Homo sapiens: one gene and its partners. The protein of the gene in region 2 purifies or fractionates together with the protein of the main gene of each other region. This does not show direct contact. Each region holds a gene or a part of one and is shown on either strand. Other genes may lie near its edges.

Evidence for each region. The genes of interacting proteins can lie anywhere in the genome.
Region 1: the proteins of RTN1 (region 2) and DERL2 purify together in Homo sapiens (affinity purification with mass spectrometry; 2 studies listed by BioGRID and IntAct, with this or other methods). This does not show direct contact.
Region 3: the proteins of RTN1 (region 2) and SLC7A3 purify together in Homo sapiens (affinity purification with mass spectrometry; 2 studies listed by BioGRID and IntAct, with this or other methods). This does not show direct contact.
Region 4: the proteins of RTN1 (region 2) and PRXL2A purify together in Homo sapiens (affinity purification with mass spectrometry; 2 studies listed by BioGRID and IntAct, with this or other methods). This does not show direct contact.

What each region holds. Positions count from the first base shown.
Region 1 is NC_000017.11:5,479,679-5,483,270, forward strand, and holds part of DERL2 (derlin-2), read right to left. Parts: intron 3,205-3,592; coding exon 3,131-3,204; intron 1,712-3,130; coding exon 1,618-1,711; intron 1,465-1,617; coding exon of another isoform or gene 1,423-1,464; intron 905-1,422; coding exon 709-904; intron 467-708; coding exon 376-466; intron 1-375.
Region 2 is NC_000014.9:59,860,559-59,864,513, forward strand, and holds part of RTN1 (reticulon-1), read right to left. Parts: intron 1-3,955. UniProt on the Homo sapiens protein: Inhibits amyloid precursor protein processing, probably by blocking BACE1 activity.
Region 3 is NC_000023.11:70,925,079-70,928,188, reverse strand, and holds the end of SLC7A3 (cationic amino acid transporter 3), read left to right. Parts: coding exon 1-44; intron 45-168; coding exon 169-391; intron 392-565; coding exon 566-705; intron 706-804; coding exon 805-907; intron 908-1,147; coding exon 1,148-1,314; intron 1,315-1,495; coding exon 1,496-1,662; intron 1,663-2,010; coding exon 2,011-2,119; intron 2,120-2,245; coding exon 2,246-2,376; 3' UTR 2,377-2,610; downstream 2,611-3,110. UniProt on the Homo sapiens protein: Uniporter that mediates the uptake of cationic L-amino acids such as L-arginine, L-lysine and L-ornithine. The transport is sodium ions- and pH-independent, moderately trans-stimulated and is mediated by passive diffusion.
Region 4 is NC_000010.11:80,414,959-80,418,550, forward strand, and holds part of PRXL2A (peroxiredoxin-like 2A isoform 1 precursor), read left to right. Parts: intron 1-3,592. UniProt on the Homo sapiens protein: Involved in redox regulation of the cell. Acts as an antioxidant. Inhibits TNFSF11-induced NFKB1 and JUN activation and osteoclast differentiation. May affect bone resorption and help to maintain bone mass.

The sequences.
Region 1 (3,592 bases), on a different chromosome or scaffold from region 2:
AGGCCACAAAGTCCACCATCAGAAACTTTCATCAGTTTTGCCCATTTTGCTACCTTACTTCACTAAACGTGGACAGCAGCTTTCATAAAACCAGCAGGCTCCTACCAGAATAGAAGTTCTAGTGGTCATCTCTAACAATTACCAGGTTACTCCCAAGATATCTTGAGCCTGTTGACGTTGGTCTTGCCACAACCCTGGCACTGTCTGCTCCTACCCAGTCCAAGTGCTCTTCAACTGTAGCCAGAATGCTCAATCTGCAAATGGTTACTGACCTGAGCTATGTGTACTAGGAGCTAGGGGAGCCAAAGAAAACACAGATCATGCCCCTGTCCTGGTTTGCCTGTAAGAGTATGTAACCTGGTGTTAAATACTCACAAAATAGATGGTGTTTTCAGAATTCTTATTCCACCAGGTTGATTGGGAAATACATCTTCCAAGAAAAAATATATGTGTCCAACTGCAATACCTAGAGTCAAGCAGAAATAAAGGATGAGGGAGAGAATTAAAATTTAGATTGCAGGTAGACCTACCAACACAAATTGCCTATATTTAGGATGAATGTCAACATAATTATTAAAAATTAATGAACTAATATTGTGGTATTTTACAATAGGTAATACGTGAAGGCCAAACAGAATAAACATGAAAAATAGTAACAAAATACTTTTACAGGTAAAATAATTTAAAAAATAGTGAGAAGAGCCTTACCCAAAAGGTCCACAATGATTGAGTTCCCCAACAACAAGGAAAATCCCATGAGCACCCAGGGCAGAAAGGGGGCCTGGAAGTTGAGAAGGCCGAAGAAGTTCATGCGGACATAGGGGTTCCTTCGGCTCCACACATAGACGAGCATTATTGTAAAGGCCTGGCCCAAGAAAACTAAGCTCACAAACAGACCAAAAAGCTAGCAGATGGCATTAAGGAAAATATCAACATTAAAAGTTTAATAGGAAAGACTGAGCAGGAGAACTAAAGATTGTGTTCTAACAGAAGTTTGAATTGGAAAAGTCAAGTTGTTACATCTTTAGAATAGAAGGAGAAACACCCAGAAAATAATTACCCAGAGCAATCAGGCAAAAATCTGCTTAGGCTAAATTATCGAGATTTACAGCTACTTCAAACAAATACTCTGCTTTCGTGAAGTTCTTGCCTCTTTGGAAAATGTGTTAATTCTTCAGTCAATAATTATATTAAAGCTTGCTCACGATTAGCACCTTTACAGAGATGAATAAAGCTAGCTGGAACAAAACCATCTTGTCAGACCGTACCATATCTAAGTCTATTGTATAGATGAAAATTCTTTTTCTGAAAAAATAATTTATTGGTTTTGGTAGCCACCAAGTAAATGTCTTACCAACTTAGTTTAAAAGTGAAGTACGCCAAGCAGTAATGATATAACTGAGTTGCTTAACAGTAACCCACCTGGGTTAAAAGTTCCTTTGACTTGCTCATCCTGTCCGACTGCTAGGTTTGGAAACTTGTCACAGAAAATGTGCTGTAAAATAAATGATAGTGCCCTGAAGCTAAGATCTAGAGAACTGTGGGAGACAGATGACAAGCTTTAGGAAGAGCCAGGGTGTTCTTCAACATTTTCCCGTGTTGTTTGTTGAAGGATACGGTCATTAAGAATCCACCAAAAAGGAACATAAATACAAAGTCTGCTGTCCGACCTCGGAAAGAGCCTTCTTCTAGCATTCGACAGTAACGATATCTTAAGTTCCAAGTTAAGAAAATATTAAGCACACGAATATGAACAAAGTAAAAATTTAATGTTATCTTGTAAGTACACTTGGATTCCATATTATTTGTAATTAGTCAAGTCTTCATTTGTATAAGAATGTTTGAGTGGTAATGTGATTACTTTTTTACCAAGCATTTGAGAAAAGGTCAAGACCAGCATCATTTTTTACAAACTGTCCCTGGCTGGGAACTAATCCAGATGACACACAGACATGCTTTCAGTCCCCTATTCTTTTTTTTTTTTCTTTTGAGACAGAGTCTCGCTCTGTCACCTAGGATGGAGTGCAATGGTGCCATATCGGCTCACTGCAAGCTCCGCCTCTCAGATTCAAGCGATTCTCCTGCCTCATTCTCCTGAGTAGCTGGGATTACAGTTGTGTGCCACCATGCCAGGCTATTTTTTGTATTTTTAGTAGAGAGCAGGTTTCACCATGTTGGCCAGGCTGGTCTCAAACTCCTGACCTCGTGATCCACTGCCTTGGCCTCCCCAAGTGCTGGGATTACAGGTGTGAGCCACCACACCCGGCCCTCCAGTCCCCTATTAAACCTTTAAAAATTTGTATTGTCTTTCCTGTGCTCAGCCACACCTTAATATGCACCATCTTTGCTTTCCCACATCCTAACTTGGAAGAAATCCGCAGCAAGAAGCCTTGTGTGCTCAACTACTTTTCCAGCCTGGCAGGTTGAGCACCTCAGTCAATAAAGATGAATTACGATGAGAAAAAACTTTAATGGAAACTTATCAGAATGATATCCTACATAGGATATAAAATGGATTCCTGCCATCCTCAGGAAGGAATGCAGCTGCAGATGAGTTGAACTGTAACTCCCTCTTAATACAGAGGGCAGGGGTGGAAGAGGAATGCCCTGCTCTGTGGCCCCAATTACCATTGGATCAGAGCTGGGGTTTTCCTTTCAACAAACCGGAACTTGACAAGCCCAGCAGACACAACCACTGTCTTTCAGCCAGTAGTTCCAGCAACCAGGACCCAAGGAGATCTCAGGTTCCCACTCCTCATGAACCCATTCCAAAACTTATGCCCAAATTCTGCTGAATTACCATTGCATTCAGGTTGTTTTACGGCTTCGAACCTGTTGGTTACTGTGGAGGTATGCCTCAGTTAAATCAATTCTCCCCTCCCTTGATCAGATTTGTAAGTAACAAAAGAGCAGAAGTGCTATCTTTTTATGGTTAAAACCTCCCATTTGAACAAAGTGACCTACAGACATTTTCAAAACATTACTACCTAAGCAACTACTTTATGTACCACTGACCCAGAAATCATAGCTAAGATGGTACCAAAAACAAGTAACAGGATGAAAAGTTTCAACTTAATTTTTTACTTCCTAAGAAAAAGTTTTGATGCTGACCCCATTTAATAAAGGATACAGAAAAATCATGTTAAATAAAAAATTGAATCCAACTGGCCCAAAAAATAAGAAGTTGGTGATTAATCTCCATATCTGTTAAAAAAAAATCAAGAGAAAGATGTATTAAGTAAAATAAATTACCAGGAAACAGTTCCATATTAATACAAAAGAAACATCCTATGACTGCGGTGGTTGAGAAGCCTTGGACAGAGTGATACTCTGTTCTGAAACAAAAACGGGGGCATATAATCTGATGTTAGATTTTTTTTGCTGCTTTTAGTTCAAAGTCTGAAAGACATCATTGGGACTGTGACATTTATAATAATAGGAAAGAAAATTTTAAATTGTGATCGTCGTATGGAGAAAGTTTGCTGGAAAGACTAGGTTAATCGGCAGAACAGAAAACAGTGCTTTCATATGTAGTATCATCATATAATAAATAGAACTGACATATCAGAGAAAAACTTCAGGGTCTAATATA
Region 2 (3,955 bases):
CTGTCCTTCAGACCCCAGAACAGTAGATCCATCGACAGCTTGCACCATGTGCCTGGAAAAGCCACAGGCACTCAATGCCAGCCTATGAAAAGAGCCAGGAGGGAGGCTGTACCCTGAAAAGCCACAGGGGCAGAGCTTCCCAAGACCATGGGAACCCACCTCCTGCATCAGTGTGACCTGGTTGCCCAAGATCATGGGAACCCACCTCCTGCATCAGTGAGACACGGAGTCAAAGGAGATCATTTTGAAGCTTTAAGATTTGACTGCCCTGCTGGATTTCAGACATGCATGGGGACTGTAGCCCCTTTGTTTTGGCCAATTTCTCCCATTTAGAATGGCTATATTTACCCAATGCCTGTACCCCCACTGTATCTAGGAAGTAACTAAGTTGCTTTTGATTTTACAGGCTTATAGGCAGAAGAGACTTCCTTGTCTCAGATGAGACACTGGACTATAAAATTTTGAGTTAATACTGCAACGAGTTAAGACTTTGAGGGACTGTTGGGAAGGCATGATTGGTTTTGAAATGTAAGGACATGAGATTTGGGAGGGGCCAGGGGCAGAATGATATGGTTTGGCTGTGTCCCCACCCAAATTTCATCTTGAATTCCCACGTGTTATGTGAGGAACCCAGCGGGAGGTAATTGAATCATGGGGCAGGTCTTTTCCATGCTGTTCTCATGATAGTGAATAAGTCTCACAAGATCTGATGGTATTATAAGGGGGATTTTCCCTGCCCAATCTCTCTCTTTGCCTGCTGCCATCCATGTAAGACATGACTCGCTCCTCCTTGCCTTCTGCCATGATTGTGAGGCCTCTCCAACCATATGGAACTGTAAGTTGATTAAACCTTTTTCTTTGTAAATTGCCCAGTCTCGGGTATCTCTTAATCAGCAGTGTGAAAATGGACTAATACAAGTAATAATGTAACAATAACAATGTCAAGTTAGGGGCACTGTTGTCTTTTAGGAAGATATAAACATCTTAGTGTAACTAATGACTTCCTTTCTGCTTTCCCCACATTAAAATGGCAACCTGGCTTTTGCTTGAACATCACTAACTGGGAGAGAATCTGTCTTTTCTGATCAGTTCTAATTATTAGAACATTTTCTTTCATTCAGAAGAAATCTACTTCTCCACATCACTAGTCCTAATTTTGCTCTGTGAAATCAGCTGGGTCAAGTCTTCTTCCTTTGCTTCATGAAAGTTCTTCTAGTATTTAACATTCAGATCTTCATTCTTTTCTTTTGGATAAAAATTCTTAATTTCTTTAACTATCTCTCAAATGGCATGTTTTCCAAAAGCCTCCCAATTGCCCTGCTCTCACCGTATTATAGCTCGTCAATGTCTCTCAAAACATGGCACCTACCCTTTAGTATGAGAATCCAAATTTGGCCTGCCTAGAACAGAATCTAGGGGAGCTATTACCTCGTATAATGTGCACCTGAGACTTTCTATTAATACTATCTGAAATTACATAAGATATTTTAGTAATTTCACCATACCACTAGCTCATATTTAGCTAATTACAAAATTCCCAACCCCCACCATGAACTATTTTAAGTTGCATCTCCTACGTTCTATACATATTAAATAGAATTTTCAGAACTTATAGTCAACATTTTACATTTATAATGTTACAGGCCACTGTTCTTCCTTCCCCCTAAAAGCCCCTAGGCAGAATCCTAGGCCATTATGTCCCTTCCTAAAGATATCCATTAGCGTCTGGTTTACTGTAATTCCCAGGATCTGTCATGGTTCATTGTGATGTCAGTAATCATGTAGGTGACTGTTTCACTCCTATTTTCACCTTTCTTCTGGACTCCTCCAATGACCTTGTCATCCACTCCATCTCAGTTTTCCACTGCTTCTCAGTAATAGTACCCCTCCTACTATCTACCTCAAACACCCCAGCTACCAAATCATCATCTCTTATCCTTTCATCTCCCTTACTCTAGTACCATTACTCTAGCAACCCTGCCAGCATATACAATCCACTGCTTATGTCATCTTTTTACTATGCTTCATTCCTCCTCAGCAGATTCCAAGACCAAGCATCTATATACTGCCTTGCATATATCCTCAAATCCATTTCCCATCTGTTCCCACTGGGATCACTGGAAAACAAAAATCAATCCAACTAACCCTGCACTCTAAACCAAAAACAAGATAACATATACAGTGATTGGTCTCACTTTAAGCTCTAAGTGAGCCCCAAGGGCTACTCAGTGTTCCCTCAGTTTGCCCTAGTCCTTTCACTCTCTCATTTTCCCAAACGACAATTTTATACCTTCTCCCCTCTTCTCAAACTTTCAACAATTCCACTCCTGCCTTCACTCTGTTGACCCTGCTTCCTATTTCATTGATAAAATAGAAGCAGTTAATGGAAAACTTCCACCTGTTCTCAGCCCCATCTCCAACCACTCCCTGCAGGTGTGCCCTCTCCTCTGTCTTTCCTCCATTATAGCCATGAACTGTCCTCACCTTTATCCAATATCAGCCCTTGTCTGTGTGCTGGATCCATCCCTGCTTACTCATTCAGAGACACAGTTTCAGGAAATGCCCCCACCTCCCGCAACACCAATCTTTCCCTGACTACTGCATCATTTACATCATCTTGCAAATATGCCTTAATATTCTCCATAGCAAAAAAAAAATACTTTCCCTTCTTTTCATCTCACTCTCCATACAGTTACCTCTTATTCAGTTTCCTTTATAACAAAACTCCCCCAAAGAGTCAAGTCTACAAATACCATCTCTTATTTTCTCCCCTCTCATTTGCTCTAAAACCATTTCAACCGAGATGTTTTTCCCGGCACTTTGAATGACTTCCTCATTGTCAAATCCAGTGGCTGGCTCTCAGTCTCTATCTTAACCACAAGCAGCATTTGACGGAATCAATCATTCTATTCCTCTTGACATATATTTATCTTTTCTTCTGGAGTCTCTTTCAGTTTTCCTACTTCGTCGCCCACTTTTACTCAGTTTTCTTTGAAAGACCTCTGTATATTTGAGTGACCCAGGACTCCTTGACCTCATCACTGTCAACACTCACTCCCTTGGTGATCTCATCTCTACACCAACAACTCCCAATGTATATAAGCAGATCAGATCACTCCCCAGCCCCACTCTACACTGCTTACTTGACATCTCCACTTGGACACCAAACAGACATTCAAAAATTAACATGTGTAAAACCAAACTCCTGTTTTTTCCCTAAAACTTGCTCTTCCTAAAGTCTTCCCAACCCCAGCTAATAACAACTTCATTCTTGTGTTTACTCAGGCCAAAAATCATGGCATGTCCCTTGTGTTCTTTCTAACACATTACATACATTCAGAATATATCTAGAATCCAACCACTTTTCACCTCTTCCAATGCTGTTACTCTGGTGCAAGCCACCATGATTTCTTTCTCAGATTATTGCAATGGCCTACTAGTAGGTCACTCTTGCTCCACACCAACCACCACCACCCCCATGTTAGATTCTCAACGCAGTGACTAGAGTGAGTCATTAAACTTAAAACTGAACTCTAAATATGTTCCTTCTCTATTTAACACCTCTCCCATTCCTGTGGCTCTCATCACACTCAGAGTAATATTTAAAGCTGTTACAAGGGCCTATAGGACCTAATCTATCCACTCCTCTCTACCGCTGACCCTTTGCTCATCCCCTATCATTCTCCCCTTGCTTACTCCACCTCACTGCTCTTCCTGTGGTTCCTTCAATGTGCTAGGCACACTCCCACCCAGGGCCTTTGCAAAGGAAATTCCCTCTGCCCAAAATGTTCTTCTCTCAGACATCTGCAAGACTGTTGTGTCACTTCCTTCAAGTCTGTGCTTTAAAGATACCTTATCAAAGAGGTCTTCTTTGACTATCCCTCTCATTCCCATTACTCTGTTTTGACCTTTTTCACAATACTTAATCATCCCTTGATATAGATGTTCTGGTCTC
Region 3 (3,110 bases), on a different chromosome or scaffold from region 2:
CTGTTTCTATGCATTTGTTGGTTTCGACTGTATTGCTACCACTGGTAACACAGTCATTCCATTCTGTTTGGGGCTTGGGCACAGTGTGTGCCCAGGCTGTATGCAGACTGGGGGTGGTAGAGGAGTGGGCCTGCTTCCCTAATTTAGAACCTTACGCCCTTCCTTCAGGAGAAGAAGCCCAGAATCCCCAGCGTTCCATCCCGATGGGCATTGTGATCTCACTGTCTGTCTGCTTTTTGGCGTATTTTGCTGTCTCTTCTGCACTCACCCTGATGATGCCTTACTACCAGCTTCAGCCTGAGAGCCCTTTGCCTGAGGCATTTCTCTACATTGGATGGGCTCCTGCCCGCTATGTTGTGGCTGTTGGCTCCCTCTGTGCTCTTTCTACCAGGTCAGTATCAAATGTTTGTTTTCTTCTGCTGTCAGAGTCTCAGGTTATAGCATTCAGTACCAGAGAATACCCCTTAAAAGGGCTGTGAGGGGAAAGTGGAGACTCTTTAAACATACAGTCTTGGGAAGAGAGATCCCAGTCAACTCATGCCACCCTGGGCATTCTCCTCTCCAGCCTCCTGGGCTCCATGTTCCCCATGCCTCGGGTGATCTACGCGATGGCAGAGGATGGCCTCCTGTTCCGTGTACTTGCTCGGATCCACACCGGCACACGCACCCCAATCATAGCCACCGTGGTCTCTGGCATTATTGCAGGTAACAGACCCTCTTTCCCCTTCCCTTAGTTGTTTCGCCAACTTCTTTAACTTTGCCACTCCCTTCTCTCATTTCTTGTTTCCTGCCTATTAATTTTAGCATTCATGGCATTCCTCTTCAAACTCACTGATCTTGTGGACCTCATGTCAATTGGGACCCTGCTTGCTTACTCCCTGGTGTCGATTTGTGTTCTCATCCTCAGGTGAGACTCTTCCTCTGCATACTGTGATTTGGATTTTTATTCTTGGATGAGGAATGATGGAGATCTGCTCCTCTTTCCTCCTTCGCCTTCATTATTCCAACTTTCTTTGAGGAATCTGGGTATCTCACCCTGCCAAAAAGAACTTCCCTTAATGGTGATGAGGAAGGTTAAGCTGCCTGGGAGAAGATGATAAAGTGAGTAAAGGTTGTTCTTAATACTGCCATCTTACTTTTGCCTCAGGTATCAACCTGATCAGGAGACAAAGACTGGGGAAGAAGTGGAGTTGCAGGAGGAGGCAATAACTACTGAATCAGAGAAGTTGACCCTATGGGGACTATTTTTCCCACTCAACTCCATCCCCACTCCACTCTCTGGCCAAATTGTCTATGTTTGTTCCTCATTGCTTGGTGAGCAGTGGAATTTTTCTGGGGTGGCTCTGAGATCAGCGTGATTGGGTCGAAGTGTGTGGCATTTGGTGGCTGAGGAAGAACTAGAGAGAGAGCGACTCTCCTTGGAACAGGGTTTCTAATGTCTTAGCATGTTGGTCTTAAGAGTTGGTTTTGATGTCTCTCAACTTGACCTTTGAAGCTGTCCTGCTGACTGCTCTTTGCCTGGTGCTGGCCCAGTGGTCAGTTCCATTGCTTTCTGGAGACCTGCTGTGGACTGCAGTGGTTGTGCTGCTCCTGCTGCTCATTATTGGGATCATTGTGGTCATCTGGAGACAGCCACAGAGTTCCACTCCCCTTCACTTTAAGGTAAATGAACTCTGTCTTTTTTCCTTGCCAGCCCATCTTGGGAGAATAGGCTCCAGATATCTTGAGGTCTAATAAAGTTCATAGATATTCTTTAATTGAACATGAAAGGGAAGATATAGGAGGTACCTAGGCCAAAGACTTCTTCTCTGACCCTCTTTAGTTCCTTTCCAGTTCCATTTACCCAAACTGCATATTCTTGGAGTCTCATGAGGTATGCTAAATGAGCAGCTACTGAAATGCAGAGGACAAGTAAGAGTTGGACTCACCCTTTTCTGGCCTGCATAGGATAGGGATCTCTTTCTAGGTCAACCTGTGGTATGTACAAAGAAGATTTTACTTTGTTTTCAGGTGCCTGCTTTGCCTCTCCTCCCACTAATGAGCATCTTTGTGAATATTTACCTTATGATGCAGATGACAGCTGGTACCTGGGCCCGATTTGGGGTCTGGATGCTGATTGGTAGGTATCCACTTGGGAAGAGTAGGCTTCTTTGGTGTCCTAGCCCAGCTCCTTTCCCTCTTGGTCTCAAGTAGGAAACCTATGAAGCCTTTACACCCCCACCTCACAGCTACCTTTCCCCACTAGGCTTTGCTATCTACTTCGGCTATGGGATCCAGCACAGCCTGGAAGAGATTAAGAGTAACCAACCCTCACGCAAGTCTAGAGCCAAAACTGTAGACCTTGATCCCGGCACTCTCTATGTCCACTCAGTTTGACATCGTCACACCTAAATGCTGTCTGGTCCCCTGCACAATAATGGAGAGTACTCCTGACCCCAGTGACAGCTAGCCCTCCCCTGTGATGGTGGTGGTGGATACTAATACAGTTCTGTACGATGTGAAGGATGTGTCTTTGCTATTTCTTGTCTATTTTAACCCGTCTGCTTCTAAATGATGTCTAGCTGCTTACCAACTTTAAAAAATGATATTAAAAGAAAGTAGAAAAATAAACTGTGTCCTGTTTTTTGCTTGCTAAAGATGTAGAGCCTGACTTTTAAGAGTGAAGAGCCTCAGAGAAGTGTCCTTTGTGTTTTCTTCAGTTACCACAAAAGCATCTGCTGTGCCTGTGGGTGCTTCTTGTTGAATCAGGGTTTGAGGAGGGTGGTGTAAGTAGGTAGCCATCCAGTCCAGTCACACTTAAAGGAATGGTCTTGAGATATGTTTTCCCCTCATTACACTTAAGGTTAGGTTCTGGATAAGTAGACAGCAACACTTGTCTCTGGGATTTGGGGTGGACTCTGATAGCAACACTGACATTGGTTAGGGCCTACACTGAAACTATTGGCTTCTGTTCCACCTCTTCTAGTTGGACCAGTCCCACACTCCTGTAACTGCCTGAGCATCAGAAATTTTGGCTGCGGTGTTTGGCACTGCTGGGAGGAGGGGTGGATAGTCAGGGGGTTTGGTAAGGGACCACATATATTAATATATGGATACTGTTTGCTGCAGAA
Region 4 (3,592 bases), on a different chromosome or scaffold from region 2:
TTCAGAATTCAGGGTCTGCTCACTGTGCAGCAAGTCACAGTAGTACGTGCTTCAAGACATGCCAGGATGGGAGTTGCTTTGTAGCCCAGGGGACTTGGATAAGAGGCTAGGCCTGTGTGCTCTCCAGGTATTCCTGGAAGTGAATTTTCTGTGCTTCTCTCTGGCACAAGAGTGGGCTGCTAGAGGCCCACTGGGTGCGGTCTGTCCATGGAGAGGCCTGATGCTCACCACTGGTCCTGATAACACTCTCAGCATGGTGCTGCAGTGCCTGAGGATGGGGTCCACTGCCCCAGAGGGCTGAATCTCTGCTCACACTTTCAGGATCACAGTGGGAGGTCAGAAGACAGCACTTATGGGGGTTTTGAGGTCTGGATCTTGTACCCAGCCCTTGAACTTGAGGTATGGAGATGGGGGTCTTTGGAACATAGAGGTTTGAGTTCTCAGGGTTCCTTCAGCACTGACACCTGCCCCAGTCAGCCTGCTGTCTCCCAGCTTAGCTGGCCCCATCCCAGCCTAGCCTGTCCATGCTGCCTCCTGTGTCCTACACCGGCTCCAAAGCCACTTCCTTCTGGGTGCTTCTGTGGCTACCCAGACTGGCTGTTATTCCTGCACCACCATAGCCTCATGCCCATACATTGCCCAAGCTGCCTCACCTTCCCACTTGATATTTTTTTGTTATTTGTGTACCAGGTCCATATTTTCTTGAGGATTGTGTATCATTTTATGTCCTCCCAAATCGCCATTTATTGAACAGGTCAGTACTGAATAAATGTTTGGAAATAAATGTTGAGTCTAGTTGAGTTGAATTCTCTTGTGCCTAGGAGCAAACATGCCAAACGCCCATCACTGGACAGTGGGAAGGTGGAGGCTGTTTGAGTGTGGCAGGGGTGTGTTGGAAGAATGTGGAGCTGACTGTGAGGGGCCCTGGACTTTGTGAATGCACTGATGTGTCCTAGGAGTCAGAGTCCATTTGTGGGATAGATGTAAACTGGTCTTTGTATACTGACGCAGAAATGCCCATCAAATCTGTGATCAGAGACCATTCTATGTGCTCCTGAGTCATAACACAAGTCAGAAATCCAGGAACATTTTGGAAGTGCATAAAGGTACAGAAGTTGTTCCAGGCTCTGGGAAATCTCTTGTTTACAGCAAGCAGATAAGAGCTGTGGTTTTCCTCCTAATTGTTCTGTGAACTGTCATCCAGTAATGTGTAACTTTGTCAAATTAAAGAATTGGAAGCAGGCCTGTGGCAGGTTCTTTCCTGTTTGTCCCAAGAACTTTAGTTGTCCATAAGCCATTGTCTCTGTAATTCAATTCTGTTGAATTCATTTCAGCATGCACTTGTGGTGAGCCTGCTTTGTACCAGAGGTGCGCTGTGCTAGGTATGAGAGATTCAGAGATAAACTGCAGAATGTCACCAAAGGAGAGAAATCTGACAGGTCCAAACCAGTGTGTCAAGCACATCAGAAGAAATGTGGGTGATGTTTGGGCACAGAACTGAGGAGGGGGTGAATCAACACCTCTTGGGGGTAGAAGTGGGAGGCTGGAAGTAGGGGGCTGGCAGAACATCAGGGAAGCCTTCTTAAAGAGGCCTCTGAGTTGTGAAGCACAGAATGAAATAGGATATTCCAGGCAGAGGGGTAGAGATGTGTGCACGTCTGTAATGTTCTGTTCTCAGGGTCTTGGCGGGGGGCCCAGCTCTCCAAGCCCAGACCGCCCTCGTGACTTTACTTTATTCTGGTGGCTGATGGCCAACCAAGCACGAAGTCCTGAATTCTTTGCTCTAACACAATGCTTCTCAAACTTTAACGTGCTTATGAATTGCCTGCCAGTCTGACTAAAAGGCAGTATAAGATTCCTTAGTTCTAAGGTGGGGGTTGAGATTCTTCGTTTCTAGATGGTGCCATTTATTGGTTACATTTTGAATAGTGGGTAGTAAGAAACTCTTCTTTCTCAGCACAGGTCCCTCATGTCAGACTGTTGTACCCAAGCGAGTTAGTGAGAACGCCACACTTTGAGACGAATTAAGAGTCCTTTATTAAGCGGGTGGCCAAAGAGACGGCTAACGCTCAAAATTCTCTCGGCCCCGAGGAAAGGGCTTGATTAACTTTTATACCTGGTTTAGGAAGGGGAGGGGGACTCAGATGCAATAATTCTACAGAAGTAAAAACATGCAAGAATCAAAAGAAGCAAAATGGTTACAGAGAGATAAACAATTTAAAAGACAAATGGTTACAAAAAGAGCAACGGTACCAGGTGCAAGGCTCTAAATCTTTCATTATAATTAGATATAGGGAGTATGTCGGACCCGAACTCAAGGCTTTATGTTGTTATCTCTTTAAGAAAAATCCTGGGAACTTCATACATTGTTGGTGCTAGTACCTTATCAGTTAATTGGGCTCCTTTGAAACGCTGAGGATCTGCTTACACAGGTCAACTCCTTGCGGAAGGGGGTTGGGTAAGGAGCCCTTAGTGTCTTGTAAATTAAGGGGTCAATTGGAGTTTGTCTGGCTTTCCCAGCTAGAAAGAGTCTTATTTACAGGAGAAGCAAGGCTAGGTGATTAAAGAGACAAGCAGGATAAAATTCAAAGTAGCGAGTTAGAGTAAAAACAAGGTTAGGCATTTCAAGACAACCATAGCAGCACCCCCTTCCCCAACACACACAGGCACTGATTTTCCCCTTCTTTTTCCGCTTCCCAAGTATATAGATGCCAAATTCCTCTTTCTTAGATGTTGTTTTTTGTTTGGTTACCCCCGTTACCTGGAACTTCTTTTCTTCTTCTTCATCTTTTTTTTTTTGTTTTTTTTTTTTTAAAGACAAGGTCTTGCTCTGTCACCTAGGCTGGAGTTCTGGGCTATAGTGATCCTACCACCTCAGCCTCCCAAATAGCTGAGACCACAGGCGTGTGCCACCATGCCCAGCTAATTTTTTATAGACAGGGTCCTCCCATGTTGTCCAGGCTTGTTTCAAACTCCTGGGCTCAAGCAACCCTCTTGCCTCAGCCTCCCAAAATGCTAGGATTACAGGCAGGAGCCACCGCACTCAACCAAGGTTCTCTCTTATTCCTTTTTTTTTTTTTTAATTATTTTAGATTCATGGGGTACATATGCATATTTGTTACATGGGTATATTGTGTAGTGATGGAGACTGGGCTTTTAGTGTACCCGTTATCCAATAGTGACCCTTATACCTGATAGGTAATTTTCACCCCACCCTCCCCTCTTCAGCTGTCCCCAGTGTCTGTTATTTCTGTCTTCATGTCCATGTATACTATTGATTAGCTCCCACTTGCAAATGAGAACACGTGGTATTTGATTTTCTGTTTCTGGGTTAGTTCACTTAGGATGATGGTCTCCAGCTCCATGTTGCTGCAAAGGACATGATTTCGTTCTTTTTTTATGGCTGCCTCTTTTGTTTCTTAAATCTGAATTTCCATGTGGCTTCAATGCTAGTCTGGCCTACCCTTTCCTTCCCAAAGTCACCACCAACTCACTCCCACCCCCACCTCATGCAGTGCACCCCTCACAGCCCCCACCCTTGGCAGTGACATTTGGATTTCCAGGGCCTTTCCTGATCCTTTAGAGACATCCT